2 separate regions of the Homo sapiens genome follow, and region 1 is linked to region 2. Evidence: fine-mapped expression QTL. A gene starts in region 2. The other region holds a variant in brackets. All regions are shown on one strand. Distances are between the middles of the regions. Region 1 has its middle 59 kb from the start of MOBP. Region 2 holds the start of SLC25A38 (solute carrier family 25 member 38).

Region 1 (15,346 bases), 140 kb after region 2:
TCAATCATGTTTACATGCAGATCAAAGGGTAAAGTTTTTCTTTACACCTTATATATCCTTCTCTTCCAAGGTGGAAGTCCATTCACAACCAATTCACTGCTAGGCAGACCTCTTTCCTAACAAGTACAGATGGATGGCATAGTGGGGATTAGAACACCTCAGCACTCACAGGGGCATCCTATGGGAGCCAGGCTGGCTTCTAGGACCTCTTATGGATGGAAGTTATTTAGTGGATCTTCCTGGATTTGATTTTATTTCTTTGATCTCTTAAGTACATCAATCTTTGGGTTTGCTACCTGTAATTTTTGTCTTAGGAAGGCAGCATCTCTATTCTCTCCAGGAAGAAATCTTGATGCAGGAAGAAGAAAAAGCCTGGTATCCTGCCCTGTTTTTGTTCTCATGGAGATTCAACAGATTTTTACGTAATCTCTTTTTACTATAATTCACCCTGCGTTTCTTGAATTCTTTGTGAACATCCCTTTCTCCTGTAGCTGACAGCTTCTGTTCTTTCTCTTGGGGCTTATGAGCTTTCTGAGTCAGATCTTTTAGCAAAGCCTTAGTTTTCTGCTCATGGAGATCATTAAGGATCTCTACTACCAGCTGCCAGATTTTGCATTTATTTTCAACTAGAGCTTTGGTGGCTGGCAGCAGTTAAAAAATCATTTTCCAAGTTTAAAATTTTTTTCTTCCAGCTGATGCCTTGCTGACACTTCATTATTTGGCTTAGACTATAAATGGCATCTTTTTTTTTTTTTTTTTTCCAATTCTTGTTAATGTGGGTTTTGGCATTGTCTGATGACCCTAACTTTTCATCTTTTTACCATGGTAATCTGCCAGTTGACTCTTTATTTTCAAATCATCTAGTTCATTTCCTTTTCTATGCGTTTTCTCCTCTGACTCAAAGATCAAGTGCTTTCAGCTGTCTAGTATATTTATTCATTACTACAACTGCATTATTTTCCTAAACCGCAGCTTCTTTCTGAGACTTGAGATCTTATCTGATTTGCTCACTGCCTCAGTAGGTAGGGGCTGGGGCAGGAGCAGTTAGGGGCAGAAAGAGACCACAGCCTTCTATTTACTGCAGCCTCCCCATGCCCCTCCAAACAATCTGTACTGCCACCTCTTTCTCTTCTTCTAACTCCTATCTTCCATCTCTTTCTTCACCTCAATGCGTACATCTCTGATCATGACATCTGTTTTTTTTTTTTTTTTTACAACTTAAATTTAAACCAAGAAGATCTTGGTTTATAGATTTGTAGCAGAGCTACTTAACAACCTTTCCATATTCTTATTGCTCTGGACTTTATACCCTCTTCACTGCTTTCTCTCTCCAGATCTTGTCCCTGGCTGCTAACTCTGATTTTTCCCAAACCAGCTCTGCTCTGACTTATGCAGTTTCCCACCATCAAGCCACCAGCAATGACCCCTGATAAGTGTGCTGACCCATAGCCAAGTGCATTCTGTCTCCAAGTCTCTCTAATTCCCAAATGGCCTGATGACACAGTTACATTAGATTATGTTGGATAAGTTCTATCACTGCTGAATCTGCTTCCTTAACTTGTGTTCACCTACAATTTTAACTTACTATTGCTTGCATTGTTTTTAAGTCTTCAAAAGTCCTCAGTCTACTTGAACACAGCTTCTCTTGTGACACTTTTCCTCTTCTGGTCTAAGTTTCTTTTTGGTGAGCTCTTGGGGTCCTAATAAGAGAATTTCTGCAGTCCAGAGAAGGAGGAGGGAACATCTGGTACCAAAGTACCAAATGTGTTCATGAGTGTGTGTGTGTGTGTGTGTATGTGTGTGTGTGTGTATGAGAGAGAGAGAGAGAGAGACAGAGAGAGAGAGAAGAGAGAGACAGAGGAAAAGAGATTGGTCTTCCCTTTTTACTTTTTGTAGCTTTCTTCTTTCTACCGCTTCTTGTGTTTTGGGAAAGGTGGGTTTCCTCCCTTCAATTCCGTATGTCTCCTTGCTCAAAAATCATGCTGACAGGAGGTCATGGCTCCTGATACAGTAAACCTCAGGATGGTCTTTGCCCATGCAAGAGGTTTGGCTGGCAATTCACGTTAATTTCTTCTCCCTTCTGACTTGAAAAACTCAAGTTGTCTGTGAAAATGAAAAAACTTTAGTGTACATATCTCACCCAACAAGGCTTTATAAAGCTGCTTCTTAAGGCAGCTCTATATTCTTTTTTTTTTTTCTTTTTGACAGAGTCTTGCTCTGTTACTCAGGCTGGAGTGCAGTGGCACAATCTCGGCTCACTGCAACAACCTCTGCCTCCCAGGCTCAAGCAATTCTCATGCCTCAGCTCCCGAGGAGCTGGGATTATGGGTGTGTGCCACCACACCCAGCGAATTTTTTGTATTTTTAGTAGAGACAGGGATTCACCATGTTAGCCAGGTTCGCCTTGAACTCCTGGCCTCAAGTTAATCCTCCCGCCTCAGCCTCCCAAAGTGCTGGGATTATAGGTGTGAGCCACAATGCCTGGCCAGACAGCTGTATATTCTAAACATTAAAGCCACCATTAGGATAGAACTAATTTAGAACAATGTTATATAGTGACTTTCTCATACAGGGAATGCAACAGCCAGTTTTGTTATACCAGGACATTTTTTATACAGGGGAAAAATCAGGCTTGTGTGTGTATGTGAATATAGAATTTATTTTGTCTTAAAATCTGAGCCCCCGTTTAAAGTTTTTTAAGGGACTAACCAACTTTTGCTCTTCACTCTTAATGCTTTTTCTTTTGGAGCCCCTTTCATGGAACCCTGCAGCACTAAACACTTTTATATTTGTAATATATTTAAAAGATAAAAATGAAAGTGTCTGCTCCTAAATTCATGGGCAAGTCTACTCATCACAAGTGTTGCTGGCCAACAGGGTTAATATTTGCTGACTGGGTAAAAAATGAAACAGTATTAAAGATAAAGTCATTTAGGGTTTTACTGAGTATGTAAAGACTCAAAAATGAAAATGTCCGACTAAAAAGCAGAGTGTCCGAACCATAACTTTTGATGCCAAAACTCATGCAACTACCTCAGAGGACAGGTGAGCACACCTAAGTGTATAATACCGTCTTCTCCTCTTATGCTACTATCTCTTCCACCCACATGGGGCTTGATACCAAGAATCACAGGTACATTGCGCATAACCTGTGTTGACAAGTGCTCATTTTAATTGGTTGATGGTCTTGTGGTGGTGAGTGGGTATGGGAGGAGGGTGGGTCTGGACTAAAGGTATGGAATCAGGCTAGCTCTCACATTCTCACCAGAAATAGGAGTTGACCACAGCAGCTATTGCTTCTCCATCACTGGGAGAGGTGGTATGTAAGGTGGTTCAGAGAAAGCAACCTGGAAACAGACATCCCTCTAGTGGAATTCCTGTTTGAAGGTTATTACTTGTGTGATCTTGGACAAGGGAATGAAGGTCTCTAAGCTTCATTTTACAAGTGAAGACAAATTAAAAACAAACACATTAAGCAATTAGCATAAAGCTTGCATGTAGATAGAGCTCATACAGTAAAACAAAAAAAGTTGCTTATTCACATGTTCATAGCACTATTCACTATTTGCATTTGCTCTTATACTTATTTGTGTACTTGATTATTACTTGTCTCCACCACTAGAATGTAAACCTCATAAGAGCAAGAACCATGGCTTTACACCTTGATGTTGTCCCTCATTTCTCCCCCCAATTATTTGATATGGACAACTGTTGTTTTCTGGAATGTATGGAAACAGTCTTGAAACCATGGCCTTAAATCCCCCTCTGATCTACTTTTTAAGCCATCATGCTATTGATTTGGCAGAGTATGGACTTGGCTTACTTTCTACTCTGCTACAACAAACAGACTTTGCCTAGAAATGTCCCATTTTTGTAATTCATTTAAAAAAGATAATTATAATAGTAAGAAAAGTCATTATTATCAAAGTAAATATCTCATTCTCTTTCTTAAGATGTACACAGTATCAACTTTTACACAAAAGGTTCCGTATACTGTAAGATTTGCAGTAAGTTGCTGACCCCTGTCCTAAAACTTTCAGGTTGGTTTTGCCCTCCAGCTCAATCAGTTATTCAATAATTTCATCTGTGATTTAGGCAAAAATATGACTTTCTTCCTAGTGGGAAATAAAGCACTTGAAGGGCTGCAGCCAGAGACCCTGTGCTAGCCTAGGACCAAGTGCAAACTAATGCCATCCATTTAGAGCAAAAGAAATAGGCAGAGTCCTTCCTCTGTGACCAGTGAATTTTGGATGCACTGCAGTCTTCTGCCTTCATTATTCAGAGTATCTAGAAGTAGATGACACAATGTCAGATCTTCCACAAGAACCCTTGCCACTATTCCACAGAGTAACTCTCATGATCAAGGTGCCTGGTCCTACTTAAGCTAACAAAAAATTGCTTTCACAAAACAATCAACTAATCAAAAATCCTTGGATGTTACAAATCATTTTTCCTCTGCCCTGAGCAATATTTCTATGGGTATTTCTATATAGGATTATCTACAGTTAATATTTATAAAGTAAGATTTCATTGGAGTATATTCGCCTCTCAGTATAATCTGATACATATCTTGATTTTTTCTTTTATAATATTGCTCTTTTATTATTCTTGATCATTGACATTGCCATATAAATGGTAGAATCAACTTGTAAATTTCTACCAAAATGCCAGTTGGAATTTCTATCAGAATTGCATTGGATCTGGAGATCAATTTATGAAGAACTGACTTTTTAAACATAACAACTCTTCTGATCCATGACAAGGTTTATCTCCCCACTAATTTAATTCTTTCATAATTTCTTTTTTTTATTTTTAAAAGAAATCATCTGATTTGTAAACATACACTCAATTTCTTGATATTTCTTCTTAACTTATGGCCTAAATCTTGATTATTTTGCTTAATTTTAATACCTTCCCATAAGAGCAAATTTAGTAAATTAATACACCTTCCAGTTGTTGGCATTTTGAGAGTATTGGCTCAAAGAAAGTGTCAGGAAAATGGGCAAGAACACTGCAATCTTGGAAAAGACATGGAGTTATGTAACAAAAACTGGGCTGAGACATGGTTTTATTTCTCACTAGCTGTGTGAGTTTGGGAAAGTCATTTAACCCATCTGTGCCTCAGTTTCTTAATTAATGACTGACTTGCCTCCCCCACAGCGCAATTGTACAAACCGAGGGAAATGAAAGTTTTAATTTATCCCTGCAGCATCCTGATGGCTAAGAAAAAAATTATAATCTAAAGGTTTAGCACACCTAGATGGAAATATGTTTTCTGAGGGAATATCATAAAGAGAGGGAGGGGCTGGGATTGCCACCCTTCAGACACCTCTCACCCTCTTGGTCAAGGAGCAGTATCCATTTGTGAAGAAAGGAGGGAGGCCAATTGGGGATGCACAGATACAACCACTGGGGGAATAACTGTGGGTTGAACAGCTGCATATAGAATTGTAGTTTGACAGGTTTTCCTGCCCATTAGTACTTTGAAGATGTCATCCCATTGTCTTCTGACCTCTATAATTGCCACTGAGAGATCTGCTGTCAGTCTGCTTATCCTTCCACGGTAAGTAAATTGTGTTTTCTCCTTGTTGCTTTTAAGATTTTCCTCTTTGTCTTTGGTGTTCTGAAGTTTCACTATAATGTCACTAAGTACAGATTTATTTTTATTTATTCTCTTCAGGACTCAAGTTTCTTCAATCTGAAGATACATGTCTTTCTCCAGGGACATGTGGAAAAAAAAAAGATGTTATACAACCATCAAAGTGGCAAAAATAAAAAAAATCAAGTATTGGCAAAGATGTGGGGAAAATTCTCATAAGCTACTGATGAGAATTTATAAATTATTATGACACCTTTGGGTTGCAATCTGGGGATACTGGCAAAGCAGAAAATTGTACAACCTGTGATCAAGCAATAATAATTTTAGGCACCCATCCTAGAGAAAACTTGAATTCATAGAAAAAGTAGGTACACGTAAATCTGTTCAAGGAATCATTGTTTGGCATTGAAAATAGGAGAGAGATCATGAGAAATTACCAAAATGTCCACCAATAGAATGAGTGAATCACCTGTGGTATATTTATAAATAAAAATATTAAATAGAAGGTAAAACAAATCAGACATACACACATTAGATAGATAAATTTAGAGGACAAAATAAGGAACATGAAAAGCAAATAGTAGATGGCAAATGTAATATAATATACTATGCATAAATTTTAACAACACACAATATTATATTGCATATTGCCCAATAAGCAGAAGCCATAAGGTCTCACACTTTTCTTATAATGCAATAGAATAAAAATGACAACAAAGTAAAAGGGTATCCCAAAAATAAAACTATCCTTTTGGAAAAAAAAAGATTTAAAATAATTCCTGGTTTGAAGAAATAACAAATTAAAAGCTATATATAAACGGTTAACAATATTAGGTGGACATATTTGTTTGAAGAGATAGGTGAAAGATAGTTGAAAAGCCTGGGGGTATATTCAAGGTTATATGTCTTAGAAAACAAAAATACTTGTTTGGGTTCAGTTTTGGATCTGGGCTTGTTCTTGTGGCTTCTGATGATTTCTGACTTGGGGAAAAATGGGGAAGAGTTGAAATACGTCCTTCCACCCAAACCTTTGTTTAGTAATAGGTAGGAAAATGAAGAAGAAAATAGAATGTTGCAGAATGTGGAGGGATGTAAAATGGACAGTACTAGGGTAGAGGGGAAGTCAGATTAGAGGAAAGAAAGAGCATCAGGAACAGTCTTGTGCTAGGAGCTGGTGTGGCCAAGCACAGTCGGATGCCCAAAGATCCAACAAGGCCATGGCTCTGTGTCCTTGAGTGGGCACAACCATTCCTAGCCAAGTTTAAGAGGCAAGTAAAAATATAGGGGCAATGTCAGATGAAGTCTTGTTCAGGGTATGGGGCTAGGATGAGAGAGAATGCCACAGAGTATGAAGGAAGAGTGATAGATCCAGATGAGATACAGCTCAGAGTGCCACGCCCCCAGAAAGAGGAATCAGGCAAGTACTGTCCCAAGGCAGCTGGAGGGTGAGGGCTGAGTGCCCTGGCTTCCTCACTTGGGGAGACCATGGGTCTCTGTAGAAATTCCAATATAAAGGCAGGGAA[A/G]TTTGACTGCATGGAGTCTTCAGGTAGAAATGTTTCTCTTGCCTAAATTCAGGTGCTAAATAAACAACAAAATGGTAACCTCTACTATGAAGTGTTTCCAATGATGGGATATCTGAGGCCATTACATTCCTGGGAATAACATGGTGAGGTGCAGGGTGGTGGTGGTGGTGAAACATACGACAGACCACTGTAAGTGAGAACAAATTACTGGCCCAGCCCAACCCACACCAAATAAGAAATTTAATATCCCTTTGGCCTGTTTTAGATTTTGGCAAAGCCAGGCCCATAGTGCTTGCTGGGCTCTCTCTTCCACATCATCCAGAAGACACACATTTGCTATGGAATGATTGTGGAGGTGAGAGTATAGTGCATATTAATTCATGCAAAAAGTTAGATATTAGCCCAGAAATGTTAGTAACAAGAAACTACTGAATTCTCTGTTTGTCTGTTGTGGAAATAAAACCTTCTGGGGATGAATCAAAACTATCTGACAATTACTTGAAATGGGTGAATAGCTAAATGTAATGTGCCTTGGATATTATAACTAAAAGGTGCTATAATCCAGTTATATTTTTTATCTTTTAAGGATTGGTTCTGAGGAGCACTACCAGTAAATATTGCAAAAATTACATAAAGCTCCAAAAGCTACTCTGTGTAAACTTCTTGAGTGGGAATTCTCAACCATAATATCTGGAATATGACTGATAATTCTGGATGTTAACTGATTTTATGTTCTGATGTTTTGACTGGTTTTGGGAAAAATTTTGGGAAAAAAGAGTTTTCCTCGTAAATACCCAACAACTGGGTCTCTGGGTAAAAAGGCCTAATTTATAGAGATTGCTAATTTCCATGGTGTAAATATTTCCACAATGCAGATTCCTTCCTTCCTTTTTTTTTTTTTTTTTTTTGAGATGGAGTTTCACTCTTGTTACCCAGACTGGAGTGCAAAGGTGCGACCTTGGCTCACTGCAATCTTCACCTCCCGGGTTCAAGCCATTCTCCTGCCTCAGCCTCCCAAGTAGCTGGGATTACAGGTGCCCACGACCATGCCTGGCTAATTTTGTATTTTTAGTAGAGATAGGGATTCACCATGTTGGCCAGGCTGGTCTCAACCTCTGGACCTCAGGTGATCCACCCGCCTCGGCCTCCTAAAGTGCTGGAGATTACAGGCATGAGCCACCACGCCCGGACCATGATGCAGATTTCAAGCTATGAACATGATTCTCTGGAGTTTACCATTTGTCTTTTAATTGGCAAATTTGATGCAGAATTGGGAAGAGAAGCACACAATTGACTCTCGTCAGCTGGCACAAGCTGGTGCCAGTGCACCACTGTATATATCCATGGCCCTCTGTGAAGCTAGAGTTTACTACTAAAATTTGTGCTCCATAAATATACAAAGGCACTAGTAAGAGAAAAAATATAAAGAGAATATAAACTAAATTCAAATTAGGGAGCTCAAATGGAGAAAATTGACAGATAATATTTTTGAAACTTTGAAAAGTAGTATTTGTCTAGATTCACCTTTTATTACCTTTTCCTTTTTTTCTTTTCCTTTTTTTTTTTTTTTTGAGACGGAGTTTCTCTCTTGTTACCCAGGCTGGAGTGCAATGGCACGCAATCTCAGCTCATTGCAACCTCGGCTCACTGTAACCTTCACCTTCCGTGTTCAAATGATTCTCCTGCCTCAGCCTTCCGAGTAGCTGGGATTACAGGCACCCACCACCATGCCCAGCTAATTCTTTGTATTTTTAGTGGAGATGGGGTTTCACCATGTTGGCCAGGCTGGTCTTGAACCCCTGACCTCAGGTGATCCACCCACCTGGGCCTCCCAAAGTGCTGGGATTACAGGCATGAGCCACCGCGCCCGGCCTGTTATTATCTTTTATTAAGCAAACAGCGTATCTATGTATCATACTGAGTGTTCTGAGCTGTTAGTTTCTTTGGTGTTCATCTAGATGGAAGCTGGGGCTTCCTTCCTTTCAGATATTGGTGCTAACATGAAGCTGACCAAAGAATTGATGGGATCTGCACACTGTAAAGCCGGTTTCAGGATGGCTGAGCTGACGGTCAAGAAAGAAGAGAAGATATGAGCCGCCTGCATTTTGGGGTGGTGGCAGTGAAATTTAGACTTGTGATTTGGTATGACAATATATGGCTTTTTGTGATTGTTAACATTAATGAAAACAAGAAAAATTAGTTGCTCAAAAGTTGAAAAATGGATTCATAAACTTTTTATTAGAGTAAGGCAAAAGAACATATTAAAATAGAGGTAAATTAGAAATGTCAATAAGAACCCATGGACATTTTTTATAAGGAGACTTTATCTGTTCTGTCCCTACAGTGATTTATGCTCTTGGATATTTTTGCTGTCATCCTGACAAATTCTAGTTGGAATATGGAACAAGCTTATTTGTAGACCTAGTGCCTGTGGCTTCTAAAGCAATTTTCTGAAAAGAGAAACCACTGCCTGTTGGAAGAATAGTTGATTCCATACCTCAAGCTAGGGAAAAAAAATCAGAATTAGTCTGTGAATTCTAGATGTTGAGAGAAAGCAGGGTTTCATTAGGGCATCGGAGAGTCACAAGTCCATAGGATGCAAAAAGGAAGATGAAATAAAATTGCCTGAAAAACGCACCTGAATTTCTGGCATTGTTTACTGAAAAGGCTGTGTATTGATGAACCCCAATTATGTGAGGTCTACATTTAAGAGTTTATAATCAACAGTTTGAAAATGCAGGGTGTTGTTTCTTTCTATAAGGAGACAAAACAGTCAGAAGGGAGTGTCACAGGACATTATCACAAAATCAAAGTTCTCCATGAAATGTGGTTCATTTGCTAGAAAATAATGCAAGCCTATTGGAGAGAATCAGGGCTTCTAGTGATGCTAGGGATGACCTTAAGCATTGTTTGTAAATCACACTTTTTCCTAGTCTTTCAGCAGCAGCTGCACAGAGTAGGCCTGCTTCTTCCCATGAAAGCCACACTGAGTTTTATCAACTAGTAGTGTGTGGGCACTATTGCAAGTTATGTTGTGTTGTTTATGGCCATTTATCCAACAGTGCTTTCCTCTGTGCGGGGCTCTGCAGCCTCGTTCTATGTTATTTTTATTACCACGTGTCTGTGCGCCTCAGGTGGCAAAGCAGAATCAGCTTCTCTACCCTCAGCAGGGCTCACTATGACTCACTATAAGGGAAGAAAATCTTACAGATGTCAGAAAATGTTAGGTAAGTGGACAGTGATAAACACAAAACAGCAAGTGGTCAGTATCAAAGAGAAAAACAGTATGTTGGTGAAGGAGAAGTATCAAAGCTAGTTAAAAAAGTAACAGGAGAAATGTAAAGGGACAATACTCCACAAAAATTTAGATTGTAACTGAGCTTCTTCTCCTAAAGAGATTTAAAAATAAAGTATAGGAAATACATGAAGAAACAAAGTAAAATGCCAAGGTGTAAGTTTGACCATGAATATCTAGGGAAAAACATACTTGCACTAAAACAACCAAATATGCAAAAATCAAGTGGAAAAACAGGTCAAAATAATGCCAGTTGATGTCTGTAAGAACTAAATGTATAATAAAATGAGCAAAAAAAATGGCCAGTTTAACACCAATTGGTGCCCATAATAACATGTTTATTTGCAAAGTCTGTATTTTACACACACACTATGGTTTACACAAAATTTGAAGGAAACCAACTAACAACAGGTCTGTCATCAACACAGGTTAGCACAGCACTGAACATGTGCAACTAGGAGGTCAAATCACTTTCCCCGAAGGAGGTGGCAGGAGGAACCTGGTGTTAGCAAGAAGTGGGCAGCACTGTGGGATGGTCCAGAGGACAGCGTGATGGAAGTGGGAACTGGGTGGGATCAAGCGAGGAACACAGGAAGCAGGGCTTTGGTGTTGTATACGTGCATAAATCCTGAATGGGTGTGTGAGAGATCAGAGCCCTGCCATGGTCAGTGTTGCCTCGCTGAGTCACTTCGCTCTTCTCTCGCATGTCACTGGGACAACGCACCCTGGGGCTTAGGAGCTAAAATGGGTTCGCAGCAATCAAGACAGCCTCCTTCTCCAAACAAACTGCTCTCCTTGCTCATAATATCTATGAAGAAAAGATGAGACCCTTGGAGAGAGGGTGAAAAGGGAGGCTGTCAACATAGGAGCATCTGTCCTTTACTGGCTCTTTAAATAACTGCAGGTAACTTGTGGGGATTTGGGACATTCTGCTCTGGACACCATTGAAAACCTATTGCCTGGATGTATGTAAAAAATCCTGGATGTATGTAAAAAATCCAGAAGGTTCTATCTTTAGATCTTCAGTAAACAGGAGTGACAGGGGCCTGGATGAGACAAGAGACTTGTCTTGCCTTTGCAGACAGTGAATGTCAGCTTGAGGAGAAGAAAAGGGGGACTTCAATGATAATTACTGGGGTGTGTTGGTTTGTTGGCCTCATTGTGAATGCCTGAAAACAACTTAGGGGTATTTTGAGGAGTTCAAATTCCTCTCTTCACAGGTTGGGGACTTGAAGTCAATTTCTATAGTCACAGGCAGGTGAGTTTATAGTCAAAATCATGTTCCATATACAATTCACTCATTCCTGCTACTCACTCTTCTATCTCCCTGGCTTTGCTTCCTTACTCAGATGTCAAGGATTTCTATCATGTAGCTTTTTGATGCTGCTTTACTTCTTCCTGTCTCTTGCTATCACTATCTGAACCTTATGGCACCCATAAGGTTCCTGGGGACATAAGGTGTCTCTGGGGACAAGGGGATAATGCTGAGGAAATGGGAGACAAGGACTCAGGGGAGTAGTCCCTAAAGCACAACAGTTCTGAGAGCGTCCCAACTGGATGGAGCGTACACTTGTTCACAGGCTCCTAAAGGTGCTTGACCGCACCAGAGCAAACTCACCATGCAATGGACATCATTGTTAAGTGTTCAGGCACAACCACCAATGCTTCCAATTGTTGTTGTAGAAAAAACTGAATTGTTCTCATCCAGTCACTTACCCATCACCACAGATCCTTAAATACCATTTTCCCACTTCCATTGACATGTGTTAAAGATTTACTTTGTTATGTGCTGTTAGGTATTTTATAAGACAACATGTTATCTTATTTACCCATAATGCAATAATAGCTTACAGATGAGAAAAAAATAAGGTTTAGAGACCTACCTAAAAGTGACACAGCTGATGTTCAGAGCACTTGAGATTCTGACACCTATGCAAACTCTACTTCTCATCCCTCATTTCCTAGTAAATCTTGAATTGAAACTGCCTGGTGTTCCCCTGCAGGGCTGGCAGGTCTTGAGGCGCCCTTCCTAACGGATGAGTGGCTCCTGCTGTTGCTGCCCTCTCCCGCGTGTGAGTGGCCAGGATGCTTCTATGTGTTGTCTGGCCAGTGTTGGCCACTTGGTGAGTCACAGAGGCTTGTAGAGAAAGTGGCATAATGCAGCTACTCCACATTTGGACCCTTCAAATCCAGGCAGAACAAGACCAAATGTCATAGGCCACAGCTTGATGGAATCTCTGAATTGAGCAAAACGCTGGTTCTCAACCTTTTCTGGTCAGGTTTCGGCTTGTGCTGGATCCTGATTCCCCCCAGATTTACTCCATCATCCTTCTCATTCAGCTTAATAAAATGTGGTCACCATTTACTGAGTGTTTACTATGTGCCAGACACTGAAGCCCTTCAGATGTTTAATTTTGACAACATTTTCAGATATATAGCTTTATTATCTAAATTTTGTAGAAGAAATAAATCAGCTCCAAGCCATTAATAAGTGGCCCAAGATTTCAAAATTAGTACGAAATGTGGCAGGGATTTGAACCAGCAGCCCGAGTCACTGGCTTTCTTGACTTGCGTATTGACCTGCTGTCCCCTGGGGTTCTTGATTTTGCCACCTTGTCTGACTCCAGACATTGAGCACACCTCTTCTTCCTTGTGTCAACTTAATGACTCACAGGCATTGTGGGTTACTCAATTTCCAGCTACAGTTTTGTGTTTTTTGAACTGATGATATCATTCAGCCAGACATTTCCTGACTTGGAAGTTTCCTGATCCCATTGGCAACACCACCCAAATGTTCTGAGCTTAATCCTTTGGAAAATAAATGGACTCCTTGTTCCCACTGAGACCTACTCCTATGTTGAAACATAGGTTTCAACTCCTATGTTGAAAACCAGGGCTAACTAATTTCTAAAGCCAGACAGGGCCTAAATTGCTATTTTTTGGGTCAATGTCTATCTATACTATTTCCTACCTGTTAAAAGACCTGTAGAAATGCACCTATATAAAATATAGGTTTATTGTTCTTTGTGTCAATGGCATGTATTATTTTGGCTATTCTAGAAAAGAAATTACGTTGGAATTCCAATGTAAACATGTTTGTGTGAATCAGTAACCTTCTCTTTCTTTTGTATGTCATAAGAAAGCAACAAATGAGTTGTTAAATGCTAAAATTAAACACCATTTTAGCAAAATTAAAGACAGATAAGATGTAAGTTTCCAAAAATTAGGGCTGCCAGAAACAATTAAAATAAGCTCAGGAGCTGCTTGGGTGAAGTGAATAGAAAGATGGACTGTTGGCAGTGGATTTCAGAAATATATTTTCTGTAGAAAAAGAAACACTGTGGTGTCCTCCTGCAGGGCCAGCAGGTCTTAAGGTGCCCTTAGGAGCTGAAGGATCTGGGAAGACAGTGGAGATTGAGTTGAAACTATGAGGGGGTGGGAGAGAGAAAGCAATGAAAATGCATGGTGAAGAGCAAGCAATGACAAACCTCAGAAAACACCAAAATGAACATACAAAAAAACTTAAAATAACAAAGATATCCATCACTTGCACACAGACAGTTGGGAAAATCCAACTAATTCAGTGCTGAGAAAATGAAAGGTAGCTGACCAAGCATCAGTGGAAAGGTATAATTTAAAAAGTCAGCAAAACCTATCAGATGAAGAATACCAGAAAATCTTTGTATCCCAATACTTTGCCATGAGTTAAAAAAAAAAGAGAAACCCTTAAGAAATCAATTGCCACTATGAAGGAAGATTACCAAGCAGAAATGAAAGGACCCAAGGCAGGAGACAAAATGTGAGCTGTCCAAAACAAACAAAAAATAAAAAGCAATACCTCAGTACAAAGCAACCCAGCAACACCCTCATTTATCTTTTAATTGGTACATTTGATCAGTTAATATTTCTAAGAGTTCTGACCAGGGTCAAAACTACCTCAGGCAACCCCAAAGATGGAGGGACGGTAGACCCACTTTAACCCTACCCTTCCCACAAGCCTTCTAAAGAAGAAAATATGCAAAAAGTAAACAGACCACAAGCTTCAAAATTTAAAAAGGAGAGAGCTTATATGTTTAATAATAACAGAGCAAAGGCCAATTACATTTGTTATATTATTAAGTGTAAATGGATTCAATTAACCTATTAAATGAAAAAGATTTTCAAATTGGATCACAAAGCAAACTGTACACAAGAGAAACATCTAGAGCAGAGTGACTCACAAAGACTAAAAATAAAAGAATGGGCAAAGTGTATCTGAAAAATAACCCCATTCACACGCACACAAAAGACAAGGAAGGTCACAATCTTAATATCAAACAAGAATATTAGTTAATGCCAAAAACTATGAAATGAGACTAGTGCTCTTTATATAACGCTGGTATGCAATTGATACAAAGGTAATGAATATCTGTGCACAAATAACACAACACCAACATTTATTATACAGAAATTACAGGATATGAAAGAAAATAAAGATCAAAATACAGTAGTACTAGGCAAAAAAGCAAAGAGGTAGAAGTCTTAATAACAAAAGTAGTAAGATAGATGTGATGGACATTTATGAATCTATTATCCCTGTGAATATAAGTGACAATGGTAGATTTGAGAAAATGACCATATATTAGCCCTCAAATAAAACCTTAATAAATTCCACAATGAAAAAAAAAAGAAGGAAACAAAGAAGAAATTAATAATAACAATGAAACTCAAAAGGATCTTTTCCCCTGGGTATTAGAAACATCACCATCACCATCACTTCTCTTTAAGCAACTTTTTTTTTTGTTAAAGAGGAAATACAAACCAAAATTATAATATTCAGAGAAAATGAAAACACAACAAATCATAAGGAATATAGCTAAGCTGTGTTGAGATGAAAGTTAAAAGCCTTAAGTTCTTGTGTTAGTCTGCTTGTGTTGCTGTAAAGGAATA
Region 2 (15,346 bases):
GGAAAAAGTTTCCGAGATTGAATTCAAATGCCACTACCATCCACTAGCTCACAAAAGAAGAGCTTCCTGCAGAATGGCAGTAACAATTGTTGATCATTCCTTCACACCTGACCCCTCGCCTTTAAGAACTTGTCTATTTATAAGTAATTTAAGAAGCTATGTTTCTCTCCATCTGTTTAGGTAGAGAAGAGCATATAGAGGGAATTGTGAGTAAGCCAGATTAATGCACCAGAAAAAGTAGAAACTGCACCAGAAAAAGTAGAAACTGCACCAGAAAAAGTAGAAACTGTACCAAGAACAGGAAGGACGGATTGGCACCAGTGAATTCAAACAATAACCAGGTAGAAGATAAAAGAAGGTGTTGTCATGTGATGGATTATCCAAAATTCCCAGTGGGGAGGACTAGCTATCTGGACTCAATCATCTACTCTGTCTCCCAGAAAAGGGAGTCTCTGGTTGAGCCGCCTTTTTTTTTTTTTTTTTTTTGAGATGGAGTCTCACTCTGTCGCCCAGGCTGAAGTGCAGTGGCGCGATCTCGGCTCACTGCAACCTCCACCTCCCGGGTTCACACCATTCTGCTGCCTCAGCCTCCCGAGTAGCTGGGACTACAGGCAACCACCACCATGCCCGGCTAATTTTTTGTATTTTTAGTAGGGATGGGGTTTCACTGTGTTAGCCAGGATGATGGCTGAGCCTTCTGATTGTAATAGGACAGTAAGGAGATAAAATAAACTACATAGTCAAACAAGGTGAACCGTCTTAGAAGCAGAACCTGAAGGAACTGGGGAGCAGGAGAGGGAGGCACAGAGGAGCTGGAAGCTGAAAGGAAACAGGCAGGGGAAAGAATGTGTCTTTGAATTGCATATCAGCAAGGCTCTCCAGTGTGAGTGAGACTTGACCAGTTTGTAACTTCCCGTGTACGGAAATCCTTCTAACATGCAAATCTGACCCTTTCATTCTCCTGCTTAAACCTCTTCAGCATAAAGCCTACATTCTCCTACATGGTTGATGGAGGGCCCCAGGCTCTCCCTCTGGCCTCCTCCCTTCCATTCCTTCCCTCCTACTAGACGTTTCCACATTTACAGTTCTAGGAATCTGACATGCTCTCTCTTACCTCTGGGTATTTGTACATGCTCTGCAAGATGAAAACAGACTCATCTATTAGTAAATGCTTGAATGAATGAGTCAAATCGGAAGGTACTGGGGACAGTCCACCACCCCTTTTGGACTTTTCAGGTCTCAAGCAGTAGCCACCTCCAGTCTGATACAAAGGATTACTCCCTCCCCAGTGCCAGCTGGAGCCCCATCATGGTGAGGCTCTACAATGAGTTCATGGAGAAGACTGTGGATGGGTCATGGACAAGACTTCCAGGTTGTTGGTGCTCTGTGCAATTCCTTAAAGAAGCAGACCTTACTAAGATTGCTAAAGCTGTCCCTGGTATGTTGAAACCCCCTACACCAGTAGGGTTTAACTGGGCTTGCAGGGGTGCTCTAAATAATACAGAACTGTTGGCAAAACTTTGTTTATGCATATGCATTTTCCTCAGTGCAATCTGTGCCCCAGCCTATCTCCTATATCTCCTCTGTGGCTTGCATTAGCCTGAAAGTCAGGACCAAGGGAGTCTGGAGATCATGATCCCTGATTCATATGATATTAGCCCAGAAAAGGAACTTGGAGCCACTTAGTTCAAGGCCCTCATCTTACACGTGAGAAAGCTGAAGCCTAGAGAGGTGACAATGAGTTTTTGTCAGATATTGGACTAGCATCAGAAACTCCTGACTTTTAGTTCAGTGTTCTCTCCACTTCTATCCGAAGCCACTCCTGGCATCTCCTTATACTTTCCCACCACAGCTGGTCTCCTGTATAGACCAGACAGATGAAGCATACATGAGGAATTGGAAAGGGGCAGCGTCTGGGACCAAGGGCCAGTGCCTTCACCCTGGTACACCCAAGGCCAGTAGCTCAGTGACAATGCCAGTGGGACTATCAGGTAATTTACAGACACCTGAAGCCAGGACCCAGAACCTGTTGGGAACAGGACACGTGTTCCCTCTAGTGGCCAGTTTGAGCTGAGCTTCTGACTGGGTGAAAGAGAACAGATGGGAAAGAATGGCAGATGATGGAGTGCCACGCGTGTTAAGAAACAAAGGGGCCAGAGGGAAAGACTTCTAATTTACATACCTAATCTGTCATTAGAAATTCTGCTTTGAGATTTTTGGTAAAAATGCAGATGTTTGGTAAGTATTTGGAATTAAAAAAACATAGACACAGGGTCTTGCTCTGTCACCCAGGCTGGAGTGCAGTGGTGCAGTCATAGTTTGCTGCAGCCTTGAACTCCTGGGCTCAAGAGACTGTCCTGCCTCCACCTTCCGAGTAGCTGGGACTACAGGCTCATTCCACCACACCTGGCTACTGTTTTTATTTTTGTAGAGACAAGGTCTTGTTATGTTGCCCAGGCTGGTCTTGAACTCTTGGGCTCAAGAGATCCTGCTGTCTCGTCCTCCCAAAATGCTGGGATTACAAGCCGGAGCCACTGAATCTACCCTAAGTATTTAATTTTATATATGGGAGGCTTCACTCTTGACCTCTAATTAAGGCCCATAAACTGGCCAGGCGCAGTGGCTCACATCTGTAATCCCAGCAATTTGGGAGGCCGAGGCAGGCAATCACCTGAGGTAAGGAGTTTGAGACCAGCCTGGCCAACATGGTGAAACTCCATCTCTACTAAAAAAACAAAAATTAGCTGGGCGTGGTGATGTGCGCCTGTAATCCCAGCTACTCAGGAGGCTGAGGCAGGAGAATCACTTGAGCCCGGGAGGCGGCGGTTGCAGTGAGCTGAGATTACACCATTGCACTCCAGCCTGGGCAATAGCACAAGACTTATCTCAAAATAACAAACAAGAAAGTTGAGGTGAATACACAGCTAGCAGGTGACAAATCCAGGATCAAATACAGAATCAATGCCTGATTCCAAAGTCCACTTTCTTTTTACAGCATTACTCTGCCTCAGTGGTCTCTCAAAGACACACAGAAAAAAGCAGGAGATAGCCTCTACCCTTTAAGGAAGGGAAACAAGGTGTATTTGTCAGGGAAATATGTGTCCTGATTTTCTTTCATCCAGATTATGAAAGATAATCTCCTTTACTTAAAGTCAACTGATTACAGAGGTTAACCACATCTACAAAATACCTTCACAGCAACACCTGGATTAGTGTTTAATTGAAAACTGGGTATTATAGCCTAGCCAAGTTGACACATAAAACTGACTGTTACACAAGATGCTGCTTATAAATGAAGTCATTCTGTCCAAGATAAAGAAAAGCTGGCCTGGCATGGTGGCTCATGCCTGGAATCCCAGCACTTTGGGAGGCCAAAGTGGGCGGATCACCTGAGGTCGGGAGTTTGAGACCAGCCTGACCAACATTTTGCTAATTTTGCTAAATGCAAAATTAGCCAGGCGTGGTGGCGCATGCCTATAATCCCAGCTACTCAGGAGGCTAAAGCAGGAGAATTGCATGAACCCAGGAGGCGGAGGTTGTGGTGAGCCGGGATCGCAGCATTGCACTCCAGCCTGGACAACGAGAGTGAAACTCTGTCTCCAAAAAAAAAAAAAAAAAAACCTTCCACATATGGATAGAGCTATAAGCAAACCACAAAACCACAAGTGGGTCCTGCTTACCCCTGTGGGAAATTCAGATCAATCAGGACCTAGAAGATTTGTGACCAGAAAATATGTGCTTATGTTTATAAACTTTTAGCCAAAATGTTGCCCGTTTCCTCATTGTGAAGAAAGCAGGAAAACAAGAAGAGTTTGATTTTTTCCATAAGATGGGGAACTGCTTTGTCAAAATATTGATGGAGTGACTTGTGGCTTCCATATGACAAAACACAAAACACCACACTGCCTGGGCACGCACCATGGCTCCTCTCCCTTCCACTGCCCCTAACAACTTGGTCCTTGGAGTAGAATGTGAAGATCCCACTCCTGCAGGAACGCAGTCCACCCCACAGAGCCATCTGCCCCTCCCTCGGATACCAGCTTGTAAGCCGCTCTAACTCATTGTTCTCTCGTAGCCTGGTCACCCTTGGCTCAGGGGTGAGGTTACAGGCAATAGTCACTGGCACAGAAGGAAGAAAGGTGTTTCCTTCTTGTGAAGCCAAAAGCAGTGACAGGACCATCCTCTTTGTGGAAGTTTCTGGGTAAAGCCATTAGAATTCCCTTTTTTTCTGCAGTATTCACCCATTCTTGTGATCAGGCAAAGAGTGGCTTCCCCCACTGGTGAAGACAGTGCCCTTGGAGACTCTTAAGGCTTCTCTTTCAGGTTGTGCATGTTTAGGATGGGAGCAGATATTCAGATGGAGAGGAGCCTCCATTAGTTACAGGACGAAGACTATCATAAGATGCCCATTAGACCTGAGAGGCCAGTAGGCATAGAGAGACTGATGAAGATGGGCGGTAAGGGAGGTTGTAGCAGAGAGAATGCATGGTATCTCCCCTCTCAATCCCCTATTGGTTTCCAAAAGGCAAAGGCTGGCCTCATTGTTTTGGCATCAGTAGAAGAGAAAATTTAGATATTTCCAGAAGCAGCTCTGGCTCCAGGCAGGTAGAAAGATCTTGCTGAGCTGGTCTGCTGGAAACATGGAGGTGGGGGCAGTGATTTACCTGTGTGCTTTTCACCATTCCAGCCATCTTCTTACAAATGAAGTGACGCAGATGCAAGGTGCTGCAAGGCCCACCTCCTCCTGCTCTGACAGGCAGACAGGAAACCAAAGCCCCTATCTGAGCAGCCTCTGTCTCTCCCATTCACCTCCAGCTTCCCATGTGGACCTTTGCCTTTTCCTTCTTGGATGGTGGAAACTCCTCCAGATGTCAAGACTTGCTGTGAATAAAGTTTTAAGAGGAGGTCATGTATCCAAACTGATACATGTGTATTTCTTCCTGGGTAGAGGGTGTCTACAATCCTTGGGATGGGAAAACATCATGTAACCTGATCATACAATCCAGAAAACATGGGCCACTTTGGATCTTTGAGGGACCAGTGTGTAATTGAGGGAAGTTAGGTCATAAGAGCCAAATCACCTTCCCTTGACTGCAGATAAATCCATTAAGGCTTGCCTTATGCTAATGACCTTGTTTTGAATTAAAGTCACAATGTTTTCTTTTTAAAAAAAAAAATTCACTCCTCCAACTTTGCCATTAAGTACTGCTCCAAACCCCCCACTCATCTGCCAATGGGTGATGCTCTTTCCCCATGATCATTATATATCTCTGCATCCCCACAAACATCCAGGGGAGGAGATGTGGGAAAAGAAGGGCCTGTGGGCTTTAGAGTTATGAGTAAGCATGGCAGGAGCAGATACAGAGGAGGGAAATCTGCCAGCTGCCACCCTTGAAAGCCAGCCCATTTCTTCTGAGCCCACAGCCAAGCAGGCATACCTGGAAGGGTGAGGGAGTGGAGGGCCGGCTTTCACTCTAGATCCCACCTGTGTTCCCACACCCAGAGTGGCCAAGAGCAGTCTCTAAAATACGCCAACCCATGATTTCTCAAAAGTAGGGATTCTTGTCTTATGGAATCAGTGCAGCGGGGGTGGGTGTCAGGGTGGAATTAGGTCTTCCTTTAAAAAGAAGTTTCAGTGCATAGTTATCAACATCACTACTGCACAAAGAAAAATAAGCCTTGCAGCTTAGAACAAAGGGTAGCAAAGTATTCAATCACCAGGCAGGTTTGTAATTTTGTTTCGTTTTGTTTTTTGAGATGGAGTCTCGCTCTGTCGCCCAGGCTGCAGTGCAGTGGCACGATCTCGGCCCACTGCAAGCTCCACTTCCTGGGTTCACGCCATTCTCCTGCTTCAGCCTCCCGAGTAGCTGGGACTACAGGCGCCTGCCACCACACCCGGCTATATTTTTAGCAGAGACGGGATTTCACCATGTTAGCCAGGATGGTCTCGATCTCCTGACCTCGTGATCGGCTCGCCTCGGCCTCCCAAAGTGCTGGGATTACAGGCGTGAGCCACCGCACCCGGCCTGTAATTTTTTTTTTTTTTTTAATGTTTATACTTTCCTTAATCCTTTCTGGGAATAACCTCCTCTGGGACCACTTTCCTTCCTGTTCTATGTACCTCAGAAGCACAGGAATGAAGCCTGAAAAAATATTATCTTGCTCCCTAAGTCACTTTCCTTTCTGATCTAGTTCTTGGGTGATGAATGAAGGTGGAAAGTAGCGAAGGTTGCTATGAAAAGCTTGGACTTTATTACCAGGGCCACTGCATTTTCAACAGGAGTGTCAGGATCCCAGCAGTAATGCTTTTCCATGGATCAGCCAGACAGGCATAAGGGGAAGTTGGGAGACCAAAAAAGCCATTGACAGATTCCAGGTGAGCAATAAACCAGAATTTTGACCAACTAGACCAGCGCTGTCCTACAGAAATGTAATGGGAGCCACATGTTAAAGTTTAAATGTTTTACTAGCCACATTTAAAAAGAAACACATGAAGTTATTATTATTTGTTTTAGAGACGGGGTCTTGCTTTGTCGTCCACGCTGGTCTCCAACTCCTTGGCTCCCTCAAGCAATCCTCCAGACTAGGCCTCACAAAGTGCTGAGATTACAGGCCTGGGCCACTGCCCCCGGCCTGAAGTTAATTTTAATATTTCACCTAACCCAATATATCCAAAATATCATTTCAACATATAAAAATTATTGAGATTTTACCTCACCAGTCTTAGACATCCAGCGTGTGGTTTATGCATACAGTACATATCAATTCCACACTAAATTTTCAGCATTTAAAGGGAAATATGGTCCTGAAAAAAAAACAACAAAACAAAAAAACGCCTGTTTAAGGAGAAAGCATTCCACACTGCTTGTTTTAATATAATTAAAATTAATGTATCAATTAATAAATCAATAGCCCACGTTGGCTAGTGGCTGCCTTACTGGGCAGACCAGGTCTGGATTGTAAATACGTTCAGACGTTCCACGCAAAAGCAAAGTTCCCTGCAGACGCTCCATTAAGTTCTGGGTGCAAGGAAGCGCGGATCCTTCAGTTCTGGGCGTTTTCACCAGGTGGCACTCAGAACACCCTCACGTGACAAGCGTCCCACCCGGAAGCGAAATCTCCCCTTCTACAGAGTTCCTCCGGCGCTTCCTCCACCCCGGGATACACAGAACCTCATCTCCTACGGTGCTGAAGCCTGCAGCAGGGCAGGATGGGCAGGAGAGCAGAGCCGCGGAGTCTGCGGCGCGGGTGAAGAGCGGCGCGTAATTCCCGCAGCAAGATTGTTCCGCGCCCGCAGCCCCTGGACTAGCAGGATCCGAACCCCGGCGGCTGCGTGCTTATAGGCGCAGACGTCAGAGAGCCCGCGGCTTAAAGCGCGTCGCCTGGCTAGCGCCACCCCCTAGCCTTCTTCAAGGCCTCCAGGGCTGGGCCCAAGCGCCCGTCGACGGCACCCTGGGCCCAGAGGACTCGCGGGCCTCATCTCCAATGATTCAGAACTCACGTCCGTCGCTGCTGCAACCCCAAGATGTCGGAGACACGGTGGAAACGCTTATGGTGAGGGCACTGCGGGGAAGGAAGGGCAGGGGTCCGAACCGCGGGCTCGGGCCGGAGAATTCGGGGCGTTGCTAAGGCTCGGCTACCCTTTTCCGCGCCCCAGGGTGCGCTCAGGATTTAGGATGCGGCGGGAGAGGAGTCTGACTAAGGGAATTGAGAAGGGGGCAGGGAGTGAGGAGAGGCCAGGAGCTGCAGGCCAGCCCTGGGGGCAGGCGCTGTAGGGCCGATGTCCCGGTAAAGGGCGGAATTGCCGGGGCCTGGACTGGACGCGTGCCGGGGAGTGTGCCCGCGCGGCCCCCACAAGGTGCGAGTAGGCTGCCAGGTGGAAGGGCACCCGGGCAGATTTGGGACGGTCACAAGGCCTGATAATAGCGCTGACGCTGAGAAGCCGTTGATGCCGCAGCGAGCTGGCCGGGTAGCGCTGTGCGCCCGCGGGCGGCGGCCTACCTGGAGGGGCCAGTCGTGGCGGCACCCTTCCAGCCTGTTGGGACGGCGCGTGGTCCCCCAGCGACGCCACGCCTCCTCCGGCGTTCGATTGGTCATCGTGCCCGGGCCGCCGGGCCGCTATTGGTGGAGGCGGAGGCGGGGCTGGCGGCGTGGTTGCCCGGTAGGTGGAGTCGGGGTGCAACCAGTCTTTAGACGCTAAAGGCCTGAGGCCACTGCAGCTGCCGCAGCTCTCCCTCTGAGGTCTTGCGCCCGAGGTAGGGGCGGCTTTTATTTTTTTTTTTAATCCTTAAAGGCGGAGACGGCGGCGGTGGCGACTTTACGTTGACGTCTTTGAAAACCTGCTTACCTTTTTCAGGGCTCTCCAGCCCTCGCCTCCAGATGTGAATTGGACTTAGGATAGTTTTTTCAGGGCAGTAGGAATTGCTTGTGGATCCAGTTTGTACTCTTATGTGCTACTTATTTCGTGTGCGTATTATTGTTTATGCCCTCTTCTTTCTCCCCTTAAAAAGAAACTACTTTTTTATTTACCTTGAATATATTTTTGAGCTTTCTTTTCTTTTTTCTTTTTTTTTTTTTTTGAGACAGAGTCTCGCCCTGTCGCCCGCGCTGGAGTGCAGTGGCGTGATCTCGGCTCAACTGCAACCTCTGACTCCCGGGTTCAAGTATTTTTCCTGTCTCAGTCTCCCACGTTGCTGGGATTACAGGCGTGCGCCACCACGCCCGGCTAGTTTTTGTATTTTTAGTAGAGAGAGGGTTTCACCATGTTGGCCAGGCTGGTCTTGAACTCCTGACCTCAAGTGATCCGTCTGCCTCGGCCTCCTAAAGTGCTAGGATTACAAGTGTGAGCCACCGCGCTTGGCCTTGAGCTACTTTTTAAAAGTTAAGTTCACTCGCAAAGGATGTGTGCCATTCACCATTGACAAAAATCTTAAGACCATTCAGTATTACCTGTTGGGATGGTTTTTGTTGTTGTTGTTGTCTTGTTTTTGCCTATTAGAAGTTGATCTATACTGCTAGTATAAATAACATCTGCTCTGTGCTAATGGACTGGGAAAAGTACAAAGCTAAAAAAGTTATTGGCTCAATAACTTGAGCCAATAACATGTCTAATCACTGTGCTGTGAAATAAAAGACGTTAAGAAGATATTTCCTGCAATCAAGGGTGGGAAGGTCAAGGACAGCAGCAAATTTGTTTTAAAACAAATTCCACACAGCACCTGTGTGAGCACTGGGGAAGCAGCGCCTAACATAACTGCCCAGAAACTAACTGCAGGTCATTCCTATAGCCTTGCTGGAGCAAGGGGCCTGGAGAGAGGTGGGGGAGATTAACCCATCCTGGGATGAGTCATGCAGGGCCCACCGAGCCCTATCATGTGGGATTGTGCTCAAAGGGAGAGCATAAGGTTTCCTGTTAGGTGGTAAGATTCATTCCGCTGTCACTGCTGAACACCTACTGTGCACCAGGCTCCGAGGTCAGTTCTTGAGATATCACCATGAACAAGACAGGCAGGAGTTGTGACTATTCTGTCTTTGACACGCAGTCATAAGGGAGATGGGGACAGGTGTTGCTGTAGAAGCCGGAAGGAGAGGCACTGAACTTGGACATGGGGGAGTTAGGGAGCAAGACCGGTGCTAGGGCATAACAACATGTCAGAGTTTTCAGAGGTGAAAGTAAGGCGGAGTCCTCCAGTATGGCTGCAGAGTGTGTTAGTGGGAGGGTGAGAACATAGGCCAAAACGGTTAGCAGGAGCCCTGTGATACATGAAAGGCCCTGCAACCAGCAGTTTGGACTTTATCCTGAGAGGAATATGAACCAATTAAAGGGTATTGGTTTGGTTGGGTTTTTTAAAATTATAATTCAATTAGTATTAATGACAAATTTGTGGGATACTCTGTAGCTCCTAATACATTTGTCATTACTTGTATTTTTATTCCATCTTTTTTTTTGGTCTTGTTTTTAAGCTAGTAACTTCAAATTTCACAAAACATTATCTTTCATTGAAGGGTTTTATTTCTGAAAGCAGCATGATCAAATTTGCAGTTTTAAAAGATGACTCAGGCGGGGCATGGTGGCCCACACCTATAATGCTAACACTTTGGGAGGCAGAGGTGAGCAGATTGCTTGAGTCCAGGAGTTTGAGACCAGCCTGTGCAACATAGCGAAACCCCGTCTCTACAAAAAAATTAGCTGGGCACGGTGACACACACCTGTGGTCCCAGCTACTCGTGAGGCTGAGGTGGGAGGATCACCTGAGCCTGAGAGGTCATGGTTGGCAGTGAGCCATGATTGTGCCACTACACTCCAGCCTAGGCATCAGAGCAAGACCTTGTCTCTAAATAAATAATAAAACAGAAGATGACTATGGCTTCAGGGTAAAGAGTGGATTAGAGGGGTCATATAGATGACAAATGGGTAAAAAATTGGTGGCCGTCACCAAGGCAAGAGATAACAGGGTTCTCAGCTGGAATGGATTGGTGGATTTGAGAGCTGTTTTGGAGATAGAGTGAACAAGTGTGGAGAGGCCAAGTCCAAGGATGGTGCTCAGGTTTCTGGCTGGGGTGCTAGAGAAATGGCATGGCATTCACTGGGATGGGGCACCTTGGAGGAGGAGCTGGTCGGAGGTGTGGGAGAAAGGTAAGTTCAGGTTTGGAAACATCATCTGAGGTGGCCATCTGAGTACGTGGCTGTGTGAGACTGAGCTCCAGCGAGAGGCTGAGAGTGTGGAGGGGAGGGTGGAAATGGAACCCTTGGAAGTGGATGAAGAGCCATGGGAGTATGGTTCATTTAAGGGAGAGGCCAGAGAAGTGGGAGGAAACCCAGGACAGTATTAATCTCTGAAGCCAAAGGAAGAGAGCATTTCAAGGAGGGAGTGGTGGTGAATAGTGGAATGCACTGAGTGGCCTAAGTATCCTGGATTTTCACTTTAGACTGGGTGGTATGGTGAAAAGAGTATGAACTTTAAGTCCTGGCCAGTGGCTTCAACCCCTGTGACATAGGACACATTTGTAACCTCTGTGAGCTCCAGTTTAATCTGTAAAACGGGTTTAAAATACCTAGCTCATAAGATGCTATGAGATTTTGAGGTGGTGTCTATAGATGCCTCGCCCAGTGCTACTCTGGGAGCAGAGTGGAGGGTGGGTTGGCATAGTTGAGGCTGGAGACTGCTGCAGAGGTCATTAGGATGGATCAGTGGAGGCCAGACTGGGAAGATTGAGGGCTTGGTCAGTGGGACTTGGTCATGTAGCAGCAGGCATGGTGAGTTTTATGTGTCTCTGAGGTTTCCAACCTGGATTCCTGGAGTATCCCAGTGTGGATTGGAGAAGAGGCAAGTGTGTGGAGAACTGTTGACCAAGTTTCCATTTTGGACATGTTGAATTTGAGATGCCTGTGGGCCATTTGAGGGAAGACAAGGAGACATTAGCAGAGTCTGGGGAGAGGCCAGCCTGGGCTGGAGATGTGGGCATTACCAGCATGTGTGTGAAGCCTGGATATGGGTGAGGTTACTCTGAAAGGAGATAAGAGGAGCAGTCCTATGTGAAGGGCAGGCCAAAGAAGAGAAGGAGAGAGAAACCAGAAACTGTGAGGAGAGGCACTCAGCTATATGGCATGTACCAGAGAGGCCAAGTAAGATAAGGGCAGGGACAGGAACGGGGTCCTGGGGTGCAGCAGGTGCTTGGTGAGCCCTCAGAGGCTGTGTTAGTGGAGGAGATTTAGCTGGATAGCAAACTGGGGGGGCCTGCGGAGGGACTGGCACAGAGCAAGTGGAGATGGTGTAGCGTCAGGCTGGAAAGATGGATGCTTTGGAGCCTGTTGCCTGGCAGAAGAGGAGATGCCAGTGGGAGCGAGAGACCCAGTGTGTGAAGAAGGGGGGCTCATTAATGCCACAAAGTCTTGGGGAGAGACTAGAAACACAGAACTCATGAGAATATTGGTTGGCAGAAGAGCAGGACACCTCTTGGGGAGAGGGAGTTGATGTAGATACAGACTTGCTAAAATACGCACACCTTACTTGGTTTTACCTGTTGTCTTATCAGACCACCCTTTGGTACTTCAGAAGTTATTGCATCGTGGTTGTAAACTCCAGTTTTTAATGACCTTAGTTCCCCCCACCCCCTGCCTCCAACAGTCTTATGAGGAATTCCAGTTATAACTGGCTTCTTTGGTGGAATTTGAGATACACTCTCTTCTCTGTTAAGCAAATACTGCAGATTACAAATATTTCAGTTCCAGGTAAGTAGTTATGTGATGTGTAATGGAAACTTTATATATATTCATCTTAATGTTTTAGGGCCACAATGTGTCATTTATTTAAAAAATAATAGTGCAAATGCCACTTAATAAGGGAAGAGGTCTTTGGGGATGAATTTGCCAAACATTTTTGGAGAAGATAGCTATTTGTTTATTTATTTATTTATTTATTTTAGGGAAGGGGAAGAAGGTCACTGGTTGGATTTTAAGTACCTTTTCACAGTCATTTGTGATACTACTGGGTTCTAGGGGTCTGGAGAAAGGATGCTGTCCTGTAATGATAGCACCAGTGCTGGAAGCTGCAGCTCCTGGAACTAAGGGAGGTATATTTAGTCTTTGAAGGAGTTCCACCCTTCCAGGTGGTGTCTGTAGATTAGCCAGTGTATATGACGGTTCATGGGTTGAAGGAGAAGCAGCAAAGCCAGGGGAGGCTACTGGTCTGTAGGACTGTGTGATCTGCTTAGGGCCCAGTGAGATGGTAAGGGGAAAGTTTTAAATGAAGGAAATACTAGGTTCTACAGGAAGTGGCACTTACATTTTACACAGTGGTTGAGCTTAAGGTTTCATTTGCTTTGGCTTGGTCCTATAAATACCTATAGGTCTTAGAGCGAAGGGAGTCTGCACATCATCAGTTCAAAGTGAAAGCACTGCATTCAATTGACTTTGCTTTTGCAAAGATAGGGAGATGACCAGTAACTTTTTGAGTCAGAACAAATAGGGAAGAGTGGTCAGTGGCATGGAAATAGTTTTGCTCCCACTGAGCAATATGTCTATCAGCAATACGAAGACCAGAGATACCTCTTGCAGCATCCAATGTCCTCAATAACATTGCAGTATTTTTAATTTCTGGCTATACTTTTTCCTTCTCCGAGGTATGAAGAAAACATGAGGCACCACCAGGTAAGTGTCTAAGAGACCATTATAAAGGAATTTGCTGGTCAGGTATAGAGAAAGGTGAGGCTCACACAGGCAGAGCTACTGACACAATATTGTCTTATCCTGCAGTTACATCCGGTGATCAAGGCTTTCCTGTGTGGCTCCATCAGTGGGACCTGCTCTACCCTCCTTTTCCAACCTCTGGATCTCCTTAAAACACGCCTGCAAACCCTCCAGCCCTCAGATCATGGGTAGGCCCTGCATTTCATTGGGGAACTGATTTCAGCAACTTCTCAGACACAGGAACATCTTTACTGTGTTAAGTCAACTTCCATTCTGTTGGATGTTCAGAGAGAAACACAGGCCATGCCCAACTTTCATATGTTCTCTGAATTGTTTTTATATTTGACATTTCTTTTTAATTAAATGGGGTCCGTTCCTGAGCAGCTTCCTGGAATCGGCTCAGTGACATTTACACTTTATTGTGTTAGCTTGTGATGTTATAACTGTATTGCCTGGCATGAGAGTACCAGGGGATTTTCTGGAAATAACATCAGTATTATCTGTTTTTGTTTTTGTTTTATTTGTTTTTTGAGGCAGATGCTCGCTCTGTTGCCCAGATTGGAGTGCAGAGGTGCGATCTCAGCTCACTGCAACCTCTGCCTCCCAGGTTCAAGGGATTCTCCTGCCTCAGCCTCCCAGGTAGCTGGGATTGCAGGTGCTCGCCACCATACCCAGCTAATTTTTGTAATTTTGGTAGAGATGGGGTTTCGCCATGTTGGCCAGGCTGGTCTCAAACTTCTGGCCTCGAGTGATCTGCCCACCTCAGCCTTCCAAAGTGCTGAGATTACAGGCATGAGCCACTGCACCCAGCCTCTATTGTCTGTTTTGTGTGTGCCAACCTACGAACACATAGAGTATCTCCAAGGTGCATTGTAGAGATTGTTAAGTGTCCTAAAAATGAGTCTATAAAGGAAGTGTTTGAGTGGGGAATTGTTTTATGAGGAAGTGATCTAAGTGATTTTTTCCTTCCTGTCTCCATTTTGTCTGCTTTCAGGTCTAGACGTGTTGGGATGTTGGCTGTACTCTTGAAGGTGGTTCGCACGGAGAGTCTTTTGGGCCTTTGGAAAGGGATGTCCCCTGTAAGCTGCCATCTGGGTCTAGGTTCCCTAGCATCCACTCCTTAATAACCAGCTATTTCTCATCTACCTTACCAGCTCTTAAGGATATGTGAGAGTCAGAAGTGGTGGGAGTACCTATGTGGTCTTATCTCTCATACTACAACTAACTTCTGTTTGAAGGCTCAGGGATATGTTGCATTTGCACATTATGCTTAGATGTGATTTATTAGTGCAGCATAGTCTCTACAGCATAGGTACCTAATGTCCCACCTGTCAGAATGCCCTTGCTCTTATCACTTCAGTAAAAGTGGGATGGTACCTCCACACCAGCATTTCTTTGCTCAAAGGCTTTTTCTGGCCTTAGGGACTCACGCCAAGGAATTAGTGCCCAGCCCAAACCCAAATCAGAAATCCATACACTGATTTCTCTATTATCCCAGTAATGTACTTCAGAGTAATTTTGTGTTTTGTTTTCAAGAGTATAGGCCAGTTATATAACTCACTGTAGGTTTATTTGCAGTTTCTTTGTGATTAGATTTAGTTCTACATTTTTAGCAAGGAGACCACAGAAGTGATGTTGATTTCCTAACCCACAGCACTGTGCATTTCCAAACCCACAGAGTCCTCAACCACTGAAAGATGAGAGTTGGTGTTTAAAATCCCATGTCCCTCCCCACTCAGTTGGAGGGATAACTCTGAGGTGTGTTCTACACCGATTCCCAGAGTTCCCCAGTGGGATTAAGTTGCCCACAGCAGAAACTGGTTTTATAACATCGTTTATTGACTGCCTTCTCTCCTATCTCATGTCCCCCACTTCCCTATTGGTGTTCCTTCCACACCTTAAACAAAGCACTTGCATGCGAATCATCTTGGGGTCTTTTGGGAAAACCCAGCTAAGATAATACTTAAAGTGTTTGGTCTTTGATTTTCTTTTCTCCCTGACCTTCTCTGCAGTCCATTGTGAGATGTGTCCCTGGCGTTGGAATCTACTTTGGCACTCTCTACTCTTTGAAGCAGTATTTCTTGCGAGGCCATCCCCCAACCGCCCTGGAGTCAGTCATGCTGGGGGTGGGCTCTCGCTCTGTTGCAGGGGTCTGTA

What was found. PIP is the estimated chance that this variant, and not a neighbour inherited with it, causes the effect.
Region 1: its variant is fine-mapped to the expression of SLC25A38 in lung (GTEx, PIP 0.98). The same link has a PIP of 0.9 or more in prefrontal cortex.

What each region holds. Positions count from the first base shown.
Region 1 is chr3:39,518,764-39,534,109 of GRCh38, forward strand. It overlaps a transcript of MOBP not described here. Among named protein-coding and RNA genes, the nearest start is that of MOBP, 59 kb to the left of the region's middle. The variant A/G (reference allele first, on the strand shown) is at 7,123.
Region 2 is chr3:39,376,240-39,391,585 of GRCh38, forward strand. It overlaps SLC25A38 (solute carrier family 25 member 38), which reads left to right and starts at 7,131. Exons shown (of 7, transcript NM_017875.4): 1 at 7,131-7,554; 2 at 13,256-13,377; 3 at 14,184-14,268; 4 at 15,202-15,346. The coding sequence starts at 7,486. It overlaps LOC105377037 (a long non-coding RNA gene), which reads left to right and starts at 273. Exons shown (of 3, transcript XR_001740661.3): 1 at 273-341; 2 at 1,237-1,438; 3 at 4,688-4,913. It overlaps LOC105377644 (a long non-coding RNA gene), which reads right to left and starts at 8,086. Exons shown (of 3, transcript XR_007096252.1): 1 at 8,002-8,086; 2 at 6,714-6,805; 3 at 3,192-4,881. RefSeq lists silencers at 1,963-2,012, 8,030-8,179 and enhancers at 7,440-7,619, 7,640-7,739, 7,750-7,799, 8,270-8,339.